Regions from separate parts of the Homo sapiens genome. Here region 1 is linked to region 2. The links come from fine-mapping of genetic effects on plasma protein levels. A gene starts in region 2. The other region holds a variant in brackets. All regions are shown on one strand. Distances are from middle to middle.

What was found. PIP is the posterior inclusion probability: the model's chance that the variant is causal. Sun 2018 read protein levels with aptamers (SomaScan).
Region 1: its variant is fine-mapped to the plasma level of the CA10 protein (Sun 2018, PIP 0.95).

The regions. Positions count from the first base shown.
Region 1 is chr17:52,132,306-52,140,640 of GRCh38, reverse strand. All of the region lies in intron 1 of CA10 (carbonic anhydrase 10), which reads left to right. Among named protein-coding and RNA genes, the nearest start is that of CA10, 22 kb to the left of the region's middle. The variant C/T (reference allele first, on the strand shown) is at 4,270.
Region 2 is chr17:52,155,226-52,163,560 of GRCh38, reverse strand. CA10 (carbonic anhydrase 10) reads left to right here and starts at 4,847. Exons shown (of 9, transcript NM_020178.5): 1 at 4,847-5,835. The coding sequence starts at 5,775. RefSeq lists a silencer at 3,998-4,292.

The DNA of each region.
Region 1 (8,335 bases), 23 kb after region 2:
GCAGGGGCTGACAAACAGTGGCCCACTGACCAAATCCAGCCTACTGCCTTGTCTTTGTAAGGCCCAGGGGCTAAGAATGGTTGTTACATTTTCAGATAGTTGGGGAAAAAAATCAAAAGAGGAAATAATATATTTCATGACACATGAAAATTATATGAAAACAAATTTTGGTTCATGAATTGTGTTTGATTGAAAACAACCACACTCATTCATTTATGTACTGTCTAGTATCTATTTTCGATGGCTACATTTACACCGTAGGGGCAAAGTTGAGTAGCTGCAACAGAGCCTAAGGCCGGCAAAGCTCAAATTACTTTCTATCTGTCCCTTCCCAGAAAAATGTTTGCTAACCCTTGCTCTAGAAGCATAATACATTAATTAATATAAACTTTTATTGAAGTACATTAAACATAAAATGCACTCATTTTAATTATATGGTTTGATGAGTTTGGGGTAAAAAAGACAGTCCTATAACCACCACCGCAACTAAGATGTGGAACATTTTTATCACTCCCCAAATTTCTGTATGTTTCTTTGTAGTCAGTCCCTCTCCAATCCTTGTGCAGGCAACCACAGATCTGATCTCTGTTAGTGGTAACAACTTTTAAACAATTATTTAGAAAGGATTTCAGATCACTAGAGACCGTGTTGAGAGAAGGTGGTGGTGGGGGTGTTTGAAAACATGAAGTTGATTTTATTCTTTCGTTTGATAATTCCTTAATTCACTCCAAACACCCACTCCAAACAGCCACTTAACTGTTCATAATATTAGAACCTAACAGGCACTGTGCAAAGTGCTGTCCATTTATTATCTCATTTTATCTCTAACCCTATGAGGGACTTCTTATCCATCTCTGATTCTATTGAGAGGAGACAGGCACCCAGGTAACACTGAGGAGCACACAGCTGTTAAGATGTAAGCTAAGATTTGAATGTGGACCTGTCTGAATCCAGAGTCTGAGCTCAGCCACCATATCACATACTTATTCAATCTTCACTACAAGTCTGTTTGGGAGTATATTATCAACATTTTGTAGAAAAAGGAAGCTCAGAGAGGTTAAGTAACTAGTTCAAGTCACCCAGCTACTAACTGCTAGAGTTAGGATTTGAACCAAGCTCTCCAAACTGCAAGCAAAAGACACCGAACAGAGAGGGATGGAAATGCATTATTTCGAAAAAAAAAAAAAAATCACCTTGTCTTACAGATGGATAAAGTAAGAGCCATATGTGAGCAAGTTCTAGATAATGCAGAGGCGAATGAGGCAGTAGGCAAAAAGCAGTTTTAAGCCAGATATAATTTTGCTTTCTAAACTAATGGATATCCAAGACTATTTAATTTAATGTAAACAACTAAAGGCCATAAAGTGCTTTGAAAATCACTGAGGGGTGCATCCATGCTGACCAGAATCAGTAATCAAAATCTCTCTTGCTGTTCCTTCACAAACAGAATTCTATCTGAATTGGTCTGTCATATTGAGAAGAGATGAAGATCAAAGTCTCAGAACAGACCTCCATAGGATATTCTCTTTCTCTCCTCCCCCTACACCGGGTATTATAAAGAACAGCGCAATTTACCAACTCCTAGTTTGAATGATTGCATTCCATTTCTTCAGGGCCTTTTTTACTAAGTACTTGGCACCTAAATGGTGCCCCAAATGATTGTCTGCTGTTCCAATTTTCTAGGAGCACTCCGTCAGCCTCCCTGCAAGCGCTTCTTACAACCTAGCACAGGAGGCTGTGTCCACTGGGTTCCTTAGTTATAAATAATGAAACCTTCAGGACTACTATAAGCAGAAAAAATTTTTTATTAAAGCACTTGAGGTGCTCACAGAGTCTGAGGGTAGGCCAAAAAATAGTAATTGGAAATTGTACTTACAAGGGTATATTATGGCATTGCTCTAAAAAAAGACTCCTGCCACTGCTGTGTAGAAACAGCCAGATCTCATCACTGGTGTGGACTGAGCTCTATACACCATTGGTATCCAGAAAGCTGGACACTGCTGCTACCAACCTCACCAGAAGATGGATTTGATATCAAACCTGCTTGCTCATGCTGTTCACTTTAGAACCATAATCTCAGGCATCTGAATGACTAAGTTCAGTCACATGCCTGCATCCTGTCCAAAGTAAAGTACAGGTTTCTACCTGGGTGGGACTGGATACAAAAGGCAGGAAATACTCCAAATATAGTGAGTTGGCTGAAGAATAGCCTCCCAAAGATGTTTGTGTCCTAATTCTAATGCCAGGAACCTATGAATATGTTTATTTTACATGGTAAAAGGGATTTAGCATTCATGATTAAAGATCTTGAGATTGGGAGATTATCCTAGATTATCTGGGTGGGCCAAATGTAATCACAAAAGTCATTATAAAAGAGGGGCAGAATGATCAGAGTCAGAAAAAGAAGATGTGAGAACAGAAGCTGAGGTTGGATTGATGTGCTTTGAAGAGGAAGGAAGGGAGTTACCAGAAATGCAAAAGATCCCCAGTAGCTGGAAAAGACAAGGAAATTAATTCTTCCCTGGAGCCTCAAGAAAGAACACATGCCTGCTGACACCTTGATTTTAGCCCCTTAAGATTCATTTCAGATTTCTGAGCTCCAGAACTGTAAGATAATACATTTGTGTTGTTTTAAGCTACTAAATGTGTAGTAATTTGTTACAGCAGCAATGGGAAACTGATGCACATAGGATAGGTATTCAGAATGTGATGACAGTCCAGGGAGCATGACAAATGTCCACCACAGCTGTGGTGAAGGAAAGCTAGAAAAATTATTAATATTTCCCGCATCCAGTGCTCTCTACTTTTTGATAGCATTCTAATAGATTCCTAAAGCTAGGTTGGGTAAACAAGCTAAGTAAAATTGCTTGTGATTGTTCAGATTGTTCACCCACTTTATTCACCCCGTGATTTATTCAACAAATGTTCCATTTATTAAATAAATATTTACTGGAGCTGAGTGCCAAGCACTGTGAAAGATATTATAGCTTCTGGAGCTGAGTGCCAAGCACTGTGAAAGATATTATAGCTTCAAAGGAGAATAAGAGAGTAAGACTCAAAGCTGACAGTCAAGAAGTTCATAGATACCAGGCTTATATTTAACTGATTTTCAGTTGTCTCTTCATATCAAATCCTACCCAAATTTATATTGTTTGTTTTGAACAATGGGAGTTAGGATGTCAAGATGATTTCACAACAATTTATGCATAAAAGCATTATGCTGAAATGAATATTTTCACTTGAATATCTAACAGTAGTCAATATTTATTGAGTGATTCCTGTGTGTTACAGATAATAGTAATATTTTATATTATTTATTTCATTTAATTGTCACATCAACCCTGGAGAAATGGATAGTTGTTCTCCCCATTCTGCAGATGAGGAAGCTGAGGCTTAGGAAATATGACCAAATTCATACTGCTAGGTAAGAGAGCTGGGATTTGAATTTCCTGTTATTTGACTTTTGGGTCCATACACTTTTGCCACCCTACCTCCCTGTGTGCCAAGCTCTGGCCTAGGGACTCACAAGTGTGTGTGAAAAAAAAAAAATCCCCACATCCGTAAACTTCAAAATTTAATAAGTATTATAAAATGAGCTATAGAAATACAGAAGAAGAATTTATATAGATTTCCAAGTTGACTAATTTTTACAGGGAAAAAATTCCTCATTTTGATATTAATTACCAGTTCATTTAGTAAAAGATCACATTATTTTACAACTGAGGTATTTTCCAAAGCAACTCCATGTTGCTTTCACTAATCTAGGTGCAAAATTTATTCTCTTAGATTATTTCCATTTCAAAATCGTGTCTCACAAGGAATATACATGAAATATACTCTCTTCTGTCACCTCCTTCCTTCCATCCATAACAGTGTGAATACTTTGGCCAGTGATATTGTTTATGTTAATACGTGTTGTAGCCTCTTGCCAGAAATTATTAGGCTCAGAAAGGGGGGCAGAGGGAACTCTCCAGGACCCTATTTCTAGCTGGATGTCTCCCTTCTGCAAAGCTCATCAAGCACCCACACAAAAAAGCTGAAGCTGGCTGGACTGTGAGCAAGACACACAGATACCACCCCTCACTCCCAGCTTGAGTAGTTAGGGTGCGTAGGATTCCTTGACCGTGAAGCTAGGGGCCATGTCTTACACAAATAGCACACAAGTGTTTTGCTCCTTAAATTCTGGGAGCTGCTGTTGGCTGAATTACCTCTCAGCCGTCCTGTTGACAGATGGTGTAACTTGCTCATTAAATCAGGATCCTCCCCATT[C/T]CGAGGGCCCCAGGCATGTTAGGAGACAGACTTGGTGGTGTTTTCTAATGCTAATGGTCTGCAGCTCCAGAGCGAAGATAAATATTCTACTTTATTGTGCAACCACTAACTTCAGCCTTACTGGGTCTGCTCCCTTCATTTTGACAGGGCACATTTAGAAAAGTGAAATGAAGTGCTTTTAGGCATCCAGTTCCTCCATCCGTCACTTTCTCTTATATTCTGCCAGCCTCGTCTTTTTCTCTGAGACTTGTCTCCACACAGTGCTTTATATCAGTGACATACAGTATCCTGAACTAAAAAGAGACCTTCCTAGTTCAGAGTTCAGGACTTAACTTTGGTTTTAAGCAGTATTATGCAAGGCTTATTTATTTGGAGAGCTTATTGGAGGAAACAATAGCAGCCTATGCAAAGAGGGGACCTGATATAAAGTCAGTGTGGCTCCAGCACAGATAATAAGCATGATTATTAAACAGCCATGTTTAACAACTTGGATGTGTATGCTAAGAGCAATGGGGAAGCCAGGAGAGGGCCTTAGGGTGGGGGTTTCACATGATCGTAGTTATGCTTTAAGAAGACCCCTCCAGCTACAGAGTGGAGAATTGAGCAGTAATGAGAAGCAGAGAGGGAGACAAGTATCAACTGAAGAATGACAAGATTCATAAATTTGGGAAAACAGCTTTATTTCTCATAAAGTGTTGCAGCCTGCAGGGTGCCCATTCCCACAGGCTAGGAAGCATAGCCTCTTGCCAGAAGCTAGAAACAGACACTTCAAGGGAGAGGTAAAGGGAATAGGAACGTGCGCTGAGCAAGGTGGCCAAATATACATATTTAATAAGCTATAGGAGGAGTCATGAATATTCATGAAAGGAGAAACGTGGTCCTGTGCAATTGAACTTCATGCCCATTTGTGGGTCCCATGTACAAAAAAAATGGTAGCATTAGCATGATCCAAGGGTGGAGTTTTGAGCTCTCTGATGTCAAAAGGTGAAGCAGAGGACACAAAAGCCTTTACTGCACATTCTCCATAGACTGGCCAGAACCACTGCATGGTCAGTGGTCTTTTCTCAGGCAAAAAAAGGAGGGGCAGCATCAGGTGGTTTGTTGGTATCAAAAGTGGAGTCTTTCCAAAGAGCTAGTTTCTGTTTATCCCTTAGGGAGGAAAGCCTAACATGGTTAGCGAGGGAGGGATATACTGAGGCATGTCTGACCTCTCATCCTGTCATGGCTGAGAACTCAATTTTTAAGGTTAATCTGGGGTCCCCTTGGCCAATAGAGGGTCCATTCAGTTGGGGGGCTTAGGATTCCATTTTTATTTCTCACAGGCGACCTCAGGAGGGCAGTCAGGAGGCTCTGGTGGCAGTCTGGGTTGGAGATGCAGGTAACCTGTTGAAGGTGATGGCACACATGGAGAGCAATGGCCAGCATCAGGAGCCGTTCAGGATGTGGATTCACAGAGCCTGATGAACTGTGTATGGTGGGGGTGAGGGAGAATGGTGAGTCAGAAGGAGCCCAGGGTTCTGGCTCATGCATGGGGTGGAGGATGGCAGTGACATCCATGGTGCCAGGGCACAGTGGAAGAGGCAGCTGTCATGCATAACCTGAGCTCTGCTTTGAGTCACACAGAGAATTGCAAAATACTGTGAAGGGAAGAGGCAGATGTGCAGTTGTAGGAGGGGAGAGAAAAAGAAATAATAACCTAAGAAAGAGAAGATGATTCTTTCTCCCAGAGAGTATGCCAGGGCATAAGAACAAACTTACTATTATTATTATTTTTAACTAATATTGGCAGAACCACTATTACTAGCTGCTGGTATTGATTGTTTAGTTCATGTTTAAACTTTACAATAGCCTTCAATTCTTACCGAAATCATGTGGGTAGGCATTATTTATCATGCCTATAGAGGTGAACAGACTGAGACTCAGTGATATTAAATAATTTAGTTAAAGACAGAAAGCTTGTGGGTGGATGAGCTAGGCTTTGAACCCAAGTTTGGCACTAGAAAGTACACTCATAACTCTTAAAGAAAACCATCATCTCCCAAGGGACAAATAAATAGGTACAAGGTTACAATAAGTTAAGAATAAAATACTGAGTAACAAAGAAGCTGATGGGAGGTTATTTTAGGATTATTTCTTGAAGAAGTTGAGGTTTAGGATTATTTTCTGGAGAACTTGAAACATTTTGTTTTGAATGGGTCTATATATGCCAAATCTTTGAATGTGAGCACATTAGTTCGAAGTAGGGAAGAAATGAGATTAATAACGTATAGAGTGAAGATGGCACTGGGGGAACAGCTCTTTGAAACATTCTGCTTTACAGCCTTTTATTATGCTACCTTGCCAGTGGATGAAAGCTGCAATGCTTAGCTTGGCTCACATCACCAGCATGATATGCTAAGACACCTTTATAGATCTCACTTCCTGCCTCCCCTCGCATGCACCCTGTACAGTCATAAAGCATCTTCCCTCCTTGGTTCCTTCTTCATTCATTAATCTTCTATTCATTAAGTGACCATTAATTGACCATTAGCTAATATGTGCCAGGAACTTTACTAAGTCCTGGGGATATAAGGATAAATATCCTCAAGAAAATGATGAGTGGCTATAATATCCAGAGTCACAATTCATTACACAATATTTTGAAATATGCTATTACAAACATTGTATCTATTAAAACAGAGGCCAGAAGAGGGTATGGCTTTGTCTAAAGGAGGTGAACTTTGAGCTAGAATTAAGAACAAGTAAAAATTTGTCAAATGCATAGAGCAGTCGGAAAAATGGAAAACAGTGTTCTGTAAATGTTGACATGAGAATTGAGCAGTTTCTGATATGCAACTGTTTTTTTTTTCTTGTTAACACTTTTTGCTTTGCTCTCCCCAAATCCTGAAGCCTCTTCTTCCAGTCTCCTGTTTTCTGTTTCCTTCCACCTCTTCACTGACTTTCCAGATTAAACTCTGCATTGCGGATCTCTGACAGTTTCTCTCCTGCTTTGCTAACCACTTTAAAAAATAGACATTTAAAGGCCTTCTGTGTGTCTCCTGCTATGTTATGGCTCTCCTGCTGTGTGAATTGAAGCTCCCTGCCCAGAGGACGGATGCCCCACCGCTGGGGCGCTGGAGGCTCCAAGGCTTACCTTAGAGGTTTGCACCATGGGCTGTGATGAATGGCAGCTTGGCTTTCGTTCCCCAAGGTCAGTCACCTGTTCCATGCCTGATTTCACCAAAGGGCATGGTACCAGATTGCTTGCTCACCAAGAAGGTGAGGCCCAGACAGGGCAGTGAAGCAGCTCCATGCAACATGGATTAGGTCCAGCCCAACTCCCAGCTTTTCCTTACCTTTGGAGTCATATAATCCTTATCTGCATACTCAGCCTGCCCATGGTCCTCTGCGCTACTCCTGAGAAGAGGTAGCACTGATTTAAGCCCTGTAATTCCACCCCATATATTAGGCTCTGCTCCAAGGTACCCTTGCTGTTGTCTCACTGTGGTCCTGTGCCTCGGTTGAGCCACGAGATGTCACCTGTGTCTGGACCAAGTCCCCAGTTTGTACCCCAGTCCTGATGAGGGCCCTCTCTTCTGTACCTGGTACATGCATTTCTATTGTGTTAACCTATACAAGGACCTTGGAATCTCTAGGCTTAGGGCCCCAAATCCTCCCTAAATTTGTTTCTAGAACTGCCTATAAGCTAACTTCACTAAAACCAAGTGTGCTCAGATGGCCAGAGCCTGAGGAAAGATGCTGAATTCTGCATGTTCACTGTGCCTTCATTCCCTGTTGCTGTGCCCCACATATAAGTCAGAAACCCAGAAGTCAGATATTGGTCTTCATTCTAATTATTCAGAATAATATAGCAGTTAACAGGTACAGCACACCTTTCTCCTTTACTGTGCTTAGTACTTTAGAAGAATTGACTCACATAGCTCACAACAGTTCCATGAGTAGCACTCTGTGGCACTGGGATTCCAGTTTAGGCAGTCCTCTTTCAAAGTCCATTTTCTTAGCCCCCCATGTGCTTTACTGTCTGCCACATCTGGACCATATCCTGTTGTTGTCATGCTCAGTGCCT
Region 2 (8,335 bases):
AAAGGCTTGGGTTTTACATTTAGGTTTATAATCCATTTTGAGTTCATCTTTTTTTTATATAGTGTAAGGTATGGATTGTAGTTCATCTTTATTTTTTCTCAAAAATAGACATCGAAATATTGAAAAGGCGATTTGTTAAAAAGACTATTCTTCCTCCAAGGAAATGAGTGTGCACCTTTGTTGAAAATCAACTCAATCAATATATGTCAGACTATTTTTAGACTCTCTCTGTTCTATTGATTTGTCTATATTCTACTACATTGTCTTGTACTACATTGTCTTGATTACTATAGCTTTATAAGCCTTGAAGTTACATAATTTAAATATTCCAGCTTTGTTTATCTTTTTCCAAAGTGTTTTGGCTATTTTAGTTCCCTAGTATTTTTATATGGATTTTAGAAACAGCTTGACAATTTCTATTTAAAAATTTGCTGGGATTTTTATTAGGATTATATTGACTCTATAGATCAGTTTGGGGAAAATTGGTATTTTAACAATATTGAGCTTTCTCATTCATGAACATGGTATATCTTTCCATTTATTTGGGTAATTTTATCTTTTTGGTAGAAGTTAGGGGTAGCTTCATCACTAACTTTTCTTTCCCTCTGGCATCTAAGCAATTAAAAATAGAAACATTTTCTAAATGGGAATGGGACAGTCCTTAAATAGAGCTTGATGTGTTTTGAAGTGGCATTTTCCAATTATTCACCCCAAATTCAAAACTAGAACATCACTTATAAGGATGGTTGGGTCTACAAAGAAGGCTCTAAATATGCTTTCCCAGCCACATGCATGATTGTGACTGGCCCCAGAAAGCTAAGTACTGCAAGAAAGCAGAGACCTTACTAGCTCTGCTCTTTGAGAGTGGCATACAAAATAAATATGCATAGGTACACACACTAAAATTGTGAGCTCACTGTGCCTGAAGGTAGCATTACCAAGAAAATAGAGAAGTGGGAAGAGGTATAGATTTCCTTTGTCTTCTAATACAGTGTGCTTGGCCTCTGATAAATGCACCCTAATGAAAGTCAAACTCTTAAAAGTTTATCATCAGTTGAGTCATCCCTTCTTCTATGGCGTTGAGTGAAAGAGAAGGTACAGGAAGAACCCAAAGGAATTTAATATTATTCTCTCTTGGAAAATGGAAATATAATTCCTTGCTTTCTATAGGACAATTGGTATCTCTCACACTTGGGTGGGCTTGGCCAAGACTCTCTGTTAAATGTGTAAGATACTTACACTTGATTTGTAGTGCAGAAATGTAGAGGAGTAGGAAAGGAACAAAAGATAAAGGCGGGTATGATGTGGAGAGATTCTTTGTAGTTATTTAGATATACATATAAGCACATTAAAATATGAAAACGTCTAAGAATATTTTCTAGCTTCATGGAATTTTTTTCCCACATTTATTTGGTTTGTTTTTTGGGCTAAAAAAACAACAAAAAAGAGAGGCAGAATTTACTTAAATTTAAAGGCTTCTATTTAATGCATTTTTTTTTACTGAGTTATTTTCTGTATTAAGATGGTGAATTTCTCAGAAAAACATATAGCAACCTACTCTAGAAATGTAGTAGCCTAGAAATGACTCAAAAATGTATGGCTCTTTCTTCTAGCAATTGCTAGTATGGAATCAATATGTTGGGGACTATTGTGTTCACTGCTGTATTCCAAGTGCCAGAACCAGAACTGACATCTAGCAGGTGCCAAAATTCTATCATTAGAAACGCTTTTGATTACTTCTGATTCCCAGTGATCTTTTCCTTATCCCAACTAATGTAGTTGGGTTCTAAATTGCATTGTCTACCATTAAATTTTAATACCACCTTTGATTAACTTCCAGCTGTCATATGTGTACTTCTGTTCTCTTTAAGTGCAAAATAACCTCCCCAAGATGATATTTTTCATTTTACAGAGCATATAAGGAAGTGGTGTGACATGACTTCTGAGTTTAGACTTTCCAGCTATGGTCTCTACACTACTGATTTGCAGCTGTGGAGCCTTGGGCAAATAACTACCCTGGTATTGTTTTATTGTCAGTAAAAGGGAAGTGATAATGACATTTATCTCACCATCACATTATGATGATTAAATGAGATAATTTATGTAAGGGATTCAGAATCTTCACACATAGTCTTCACACATAACAATCAATACACATAATACTTCACACACAACAATCAATACACTCAAACTTTTTTTAAACTAACAAATACTGTCATGTGAGTTGCCTTTTTTAAAAACTGAAAGCACTTAGTGGCAGATCACAGATTAAATATTCTTTGGGAATGCTGGAGGTGAGTATGCAGACTGAAAGGGTGGAAATAAAGTATTATTTTACTGGCATTGGCTCTTAAAGCAGAATATAGAGGGATATATGGTCTGCAGATTTTTTTGAAAGCAAGGATAATGCATTTTCAATTACAAAGCCCAAGCATCTTGCCACAGTGTTTGACACATATAAGACACTTAATAATTGCAGAATTCATTAGTAAATGAGTGGGTAGTGACATAAAAATTCAGGCACCATGCTTCTGCTTCCAGAGGAGAGACCTCTTCTGCCAGCCTATCTCCCCACCCAAGCAGGGATGGTAGGTCGCTGTCCACGGTTCTGAACTCTCACCAGGCTGGAATCTGCTCATCTTTGTCAGACTGCTTTTTTTTTTTTCTTTCTCCCTCTCTCCTCAAAAAAAGAAAAAGAAAAAAGAAAAAAGAGAGAAAGAAAGAAAGAAAGAAAGAAAGAAAGAAAGAAAGAAAGAAAGAAAGAAAAAATAATAATAATTCTTCATGCAGTCTACTTTCAAGGCACGGAGACAAATGCCCCCATATATTTCCCAAATGGGCTAATTCTCACTATCCGGAATTCTTTTAATGTTCTGAAGTTTCATGCTTTTCCCTGCTGAGCCTGGAAGCTCTCTACATAAGAATGCTGGATTTATTTCATCTGGGCCTAGATTTTTAATGTGTTGACCACCTAGAGTCCTTGGCCTTTGTTTCACAGAACAGATCTCACGGCCACATCTCCTTCTTTAAGAGTAGGCAGGTCTGTCGGCGGTTCCTTTTTCGAATCCCTAGAGTCGGTGGGACTACGTAGCTCTGGCTCCCGCAGCCGCCCAGCCCAGACAGCTCAGAGAGCTGCTGATCTGCTCTGCGTTCTCTCTTTTTCCTCCCTCTTCTCCCCGCCACTCAGCAAAAAGACCCGCCAGACTCCTGGGCAGTTGGAGTCCCTTCAAGAACCCTGGGAGCACTGTAATGTAACTCCTTTAGCTCCCACTCCGCACCCTCAGATGTCGCACAGCCTGGGTGCTGGGATCAACACGGGAAGATTCACTAGATTGACTCTGTGCGGATGAACGGGCACCCTTTCCTTCCCCTCCTCCATCTCCACTTATCTACCCTTTGTGCAGTTCTTAGACCGAGGTTTATACTGAAATAGCTTCTAAACATCAAATATTAAAAGTGGATAAAAAATCCCCGCGGGGTATGTGTGTGTTTGTGTTTGTTATGTGTGTGTTCATCCGCGCTTGTGCAAAATCTCCTAACGTCACAGTTCCCAATCGGGACAAGCGCGCCGAGAAATCCTGGATCTTCCCAGGGATTCCCTCTACGCTCCCTCCTCTTCTTCAATAACCCCAAAGAGGTAGGTTTGAGCTTTCGCAAACCACCACTGCAGCGATGGAAGCAGACAAATCTGTTGAGATTTTGTCTTTCCCCTTTCGTTCCCAGCCCTCTTAGGCAAGCAGTTCTGAGCACAGGGTTTTCTTCAATTCCCCTGCATCCACACTGCAACCGGGTGCAAGTCTTTCCTAGGTTATAGACAGCCCGCCTCCCCACGAGACCTTCTGCGGACTGGCTGCCCCTGGCCTCGGCCTGGGTGGGTGGGTGGTGCTCGCGCCGCCCCTACTTTCCCCTGGGGCCCTGGAGAGCCGCGCGCTGGGTGTGTGTGTGTGTGCGCGCGCGGGTTTGGTGGGGAAATCTCCTTCAGTGGAAGCTGCTGAGTGTCGTTGGCGGAAAGTATCCTGGAGCCCAGCAAAAGCCTCCAAAGCACTAGAGCTTCCCTAAAGAAAAGCAGAATAAAAGAAAGACAAGAAGGGAAGCCCGTTCCTCTAAAGCCCGGGTTTCCAATAGTCCCGGATCCTCCTGGAGTTGGGCGAAGGCGCAGTTGGCAGCAGCCGCTGCTGGCACCCGGACTTGGAAAGGCGGTGTTCCCCCTTTTCGGGAGGAGGGAGGCAGGGACTTGCAGGCAAGAGTTGCACCTGGTCTAGGAACCTGCAGAGAAAAGAACTCTGGGGTAAGTAGTGTTCTGGCACTGGCACGGAAAGGGGTAAAGGGTGGGGGGCATGAGAGGGACGAAATGGAGAGGGCAGGGAATGAATTATGCAAAAAAATCTCCAATATTTCGCAGCGGAGGGAGAGCACAGCACAGCACTCCCAGGATGAGTCCTGCCTGGGTCTCCCGCGCCGAACCCGCAGCACGAAGTTCTTTTTAAGAAGAGAAACTCGAAAATCCTGGAGGGTAACAGAGGCAGCCAGGGCGGGGCGGAGTGCGGAGGCGGCTGCCAGGGACTGGGGCCGAGGCGGCGGCCAAGGTGGCCTGAAGCTGTGACACCCAGCCTCCTCCTCCTCCTCCTCATGGCCGCGCTCAGCCTCACCTCCCCGCCCGGGCCTCCTGCCTCCGCCCCCGGGTGCCGGGCTGCGGAGCTGACGCTGGGACGCCCGGCGGCGGCGAGGACGCTCACCTGGCCAAGCCTCCTTCTCCTCCTCCCCCTCCCGCCCCCACCTGTCCTCCTCCTCTCTGAGTTGGGAAGCGTAGGGATCCGTAGGCGAGGAAATAACGACCCCTGCAGTTGTATTGCGGAAAATCTCGACAGCGGCGCTAGTTGCGGGCGATGGAAGCCAGGCAACTGGGGGTTCTGGGGAGTTCAGGAAAATAGCAGAGGAGCAGGAAGGGCGCGCGCGACCTGGAGAGTCTGTGTGCCCCCACCGCGCCCCAGTCCCCGGGGCCCAGCCCTTCCCCTCGGCGCCCTGGACGCACTGCCGGAACCCGGCTGAGAGGCTGCAGGCTGCGCGCGGACCTGGGGAGCAGGGAGGGTCGGCGGAGGCTGCCGGCGGCTGGCGGTTTCGGGCAATAATCCCTGCCTCTCTTTCTCTGTGTGTCTGCTGTGTCTGCTCCTTCCCCGCCCCCCGGAAGCAGGAGAAGAACTGCCCCGGAGCGCAGCAGCCACCCTCCGACCATGCCCCGGTGAGGGGGGCGGACTTCGAGGGCAACTTGCCGCGGACTGCCTGGGCTTAGCCAGCGAGCTACGCGCTCCCGGGAGCCCGGAATTGCACGGCGCAGCCCGGCGGGGGGCTATCGTCTATGTCTTCTTGGGGCGCCAGACGAATCGGGGTCTCGTTTTTGCTGGAAGAGCCCAGTGTTGGTGGCTTCAGGTGGCTGCTGCCGCCGCCGCCGCCGCCGCCGCTGCTAGTGCGGTTTCCGCCGCTGGTGCGAAGAGAAGAGACACGCGAGCGGGGAGACCTCCAAGGCAGCGAGGCATCGGACATGTGTCAGCACATCTGGGGCGCACATCCGTCGAGCCCGAGGGGAGATTTGCCGGAACAATTCAAACTGCGATATTGATCTTGGGGGTGACTGTCCCTGGCCGGCTGTCGGGTGGGAGTGCGAGTGTGCACTCGCTCGGAAGTGTGTGCGAGTGTGTATGTGTGTGTGCCGTGTCGGGCTCCCCCCTTCCCCCCGTTTTCCCGTCGAGTGATGCACTTGGAATGAGAATCAGAGGATGGAAATAGTCTGGGAGGTGCTTTTTCTTCTTCAAGCCAATTTCATCGTCTGCATATCAGGTACGGGACGCGCCGAAGTCACTGGCTGATTTGGATTATGTTGTGATGTCTGGGGTGTATGGGGTTTTATTGTATATAGCCGCGGGGCAGAGAGAGGGGTGGCGAGACCCTTTGAGTTCTGCGGGTTTGCCGCCTTCAGAATCAAAAATCTTCTCAGCCCAAGGGTGTGTGAATGTGTGTGTTTTGCGGGGGGGGGTGGTTAGGATCTGTGTGCAGTCCTAGAAGGGTGAAGGAAAAAGTGGTGGGGGATGAGAAAGAAGAGGCAGATGGGTGTTGATTTTCAACTGCTTTCCTGGCTGAGAACTCTGGCGCCGAAATCCGAGCCTTGGCAACAACCACCCCCATCCCCTGGCTTTCAAAGTTCCCAGACTCGGTGGTTCCTGGCTGGCAAAATGGACGCGGGGCCCTGCCCGGGTATCTAACCACTTTCAAGAGACTGCGGGAGGATGCGGGACTGGAGAGTACCAGCAGGGATCAGAGATATGTCCTCCATGCCTTACCCAAACACATCAGGACTGATTGTGATGCTTTGAAACCTGCTGACACACCCTCCTCTACCCCCCCAATTTTCTTGTTAAAGCACTACAGTGTCACAAATACCACTTTCTTTACATCACGGTGTTTTTTAATTCCCAGTAGCAAGGATGTGCTGGCTCAGACCTCTCAGTCTACTTGGGCCTGTCTGTGCTTTTAAGAGCAAACGGGATTTCAGGGTGTTGAGGTGAAAGAGGTTGGGCTTGTGGACACCTGTGCCTGAGTGTGTTAGGACGAGTTCTGGTTTTTGAGCACTGTCTTTGTTGATGCAGGGAATTGGGGTTGGGAGGAAGCTGGGAGGGAAAGGGGAAAGCCCCTGGACCAGCAGTATTCCCCAGTTCAGTGGCTCCTCCCATTGAAGGCACCCACCCCATTTCCCTTCACACCTGCCACTTAAGCACCCAAGGAAAAGCCCATTTGTAGTGCTCCCTTCTGCCTGCATTCTTCTGCAGAAGTGGGGACTCGGCCAACTTCCCATGAAGTCATCAGAAGAGGAGAGCAGGATATTGCCCCTTTGAGCAGCCACATTTAAGCAGCACTGGGGTGGAGAGACATGTTTCCTGCCTCTTCCTTCAGCCCTGTCAATCCCCTCCCTTTAAGCCAGACCTGATTCTGGATAGGAGAAAACAACCCTAGTTCTGCCCTCACCCTGGACTCTGTTCCAAATCCCAGTCTGGCTTCCAATTTTCTCCTCATAGGGAAGGAATGGGACTCTTATCCGAAATCATTCTGTGTGGGGCTTGGCTACCCTATTAAGAAATTTGTCTCTGTGATACATCAGTGAGATGTGTTGTGTACCTGGCAGACAAGAAAATGTGCCCTGGGGTCACCCCAACTCCTCTAGTGGGACTTCTATTATTCCATTCTGCATCTAGGAGTGAAAATTCTCAAGTGACTTGTAAAGGTTTATATCAGTCATATGTCCAGATATGAAGTGGGTGGCATCTCACAAGGCCATATTTTACATCTTTCTCTTCTACATGTCTATTTCAAACTCTCTCTCTTGTTCCAGAATATTTGACTAGTTATAAAATAGCCTTTCCTTACTTCTCCCCAGTGTCATTAATAATTTTCAAATCAGACAAGCCATCTGAGTACCTTTAAGATTTATAAAGGGTTAACATTGATTAAGGCTCTGGATTTCCTCCAGCATCCTCTCTGTCCCCAGCCCTTACCCTGAATTTCGCCAGGCAATCACCGAGGGGAACAGGCTGAGAAAGGGTCTGATCTTAGCCTCCAAAAAAAGCATTAGTGGGATACCTGTCACAGCTATATTTGATTTGGTGTATCAGCAACTAAATTATTCAAATGGAAGCATTAGGAGGGGGATTTCCAACTCAGGAGGAGTGCTATGGAGTACATGGCCTTTCATATGTATTTACTAAATAATCATTATTGCTATGTAATGAGAGGATAAAAGTGTAAGCAAAATTGCTAGCTATTAGCTAAACACAGAAAACTAGGTTAGCGTTCCAAATGCCTAGTTAGGATCTGCATTAATTTGCACTTTATGAAGACATTTAGGCAGGGATGCAACATCATATACTCTTTATTTTACACATCCATAAACTTTAAAAGGCCATTTCTTCTCCATGGTCAGGGTGGCCTCATCCTCCTGTAAGCAGAGCCACTCATTCAGTAATGCCCATGTATGTGAGAATTATTATTAGTAATATGATTATGACTCACAATTGCTACAGTTTGGGAGACTCAGACTCCATTCTTTTTCCATCTGGCAGCCTTAGGATGTATAGGAAATGCAATGCACTAAGGTTGAATATTTGTGGCTTTGAGAGAGTTTAGTGGATCTTTCATTTCTGTCTCCATGATTTGCAGTTTTAATTTACTCATGACTGAGCTCTATTGAAAGGAACATAACCCTGTGATCATAGAATCTACTAAATCTTAAATTAAAAATATTAAAAACAAAGCACCTCTTTAGCATCTTGGAATGAATTTTCCTGAC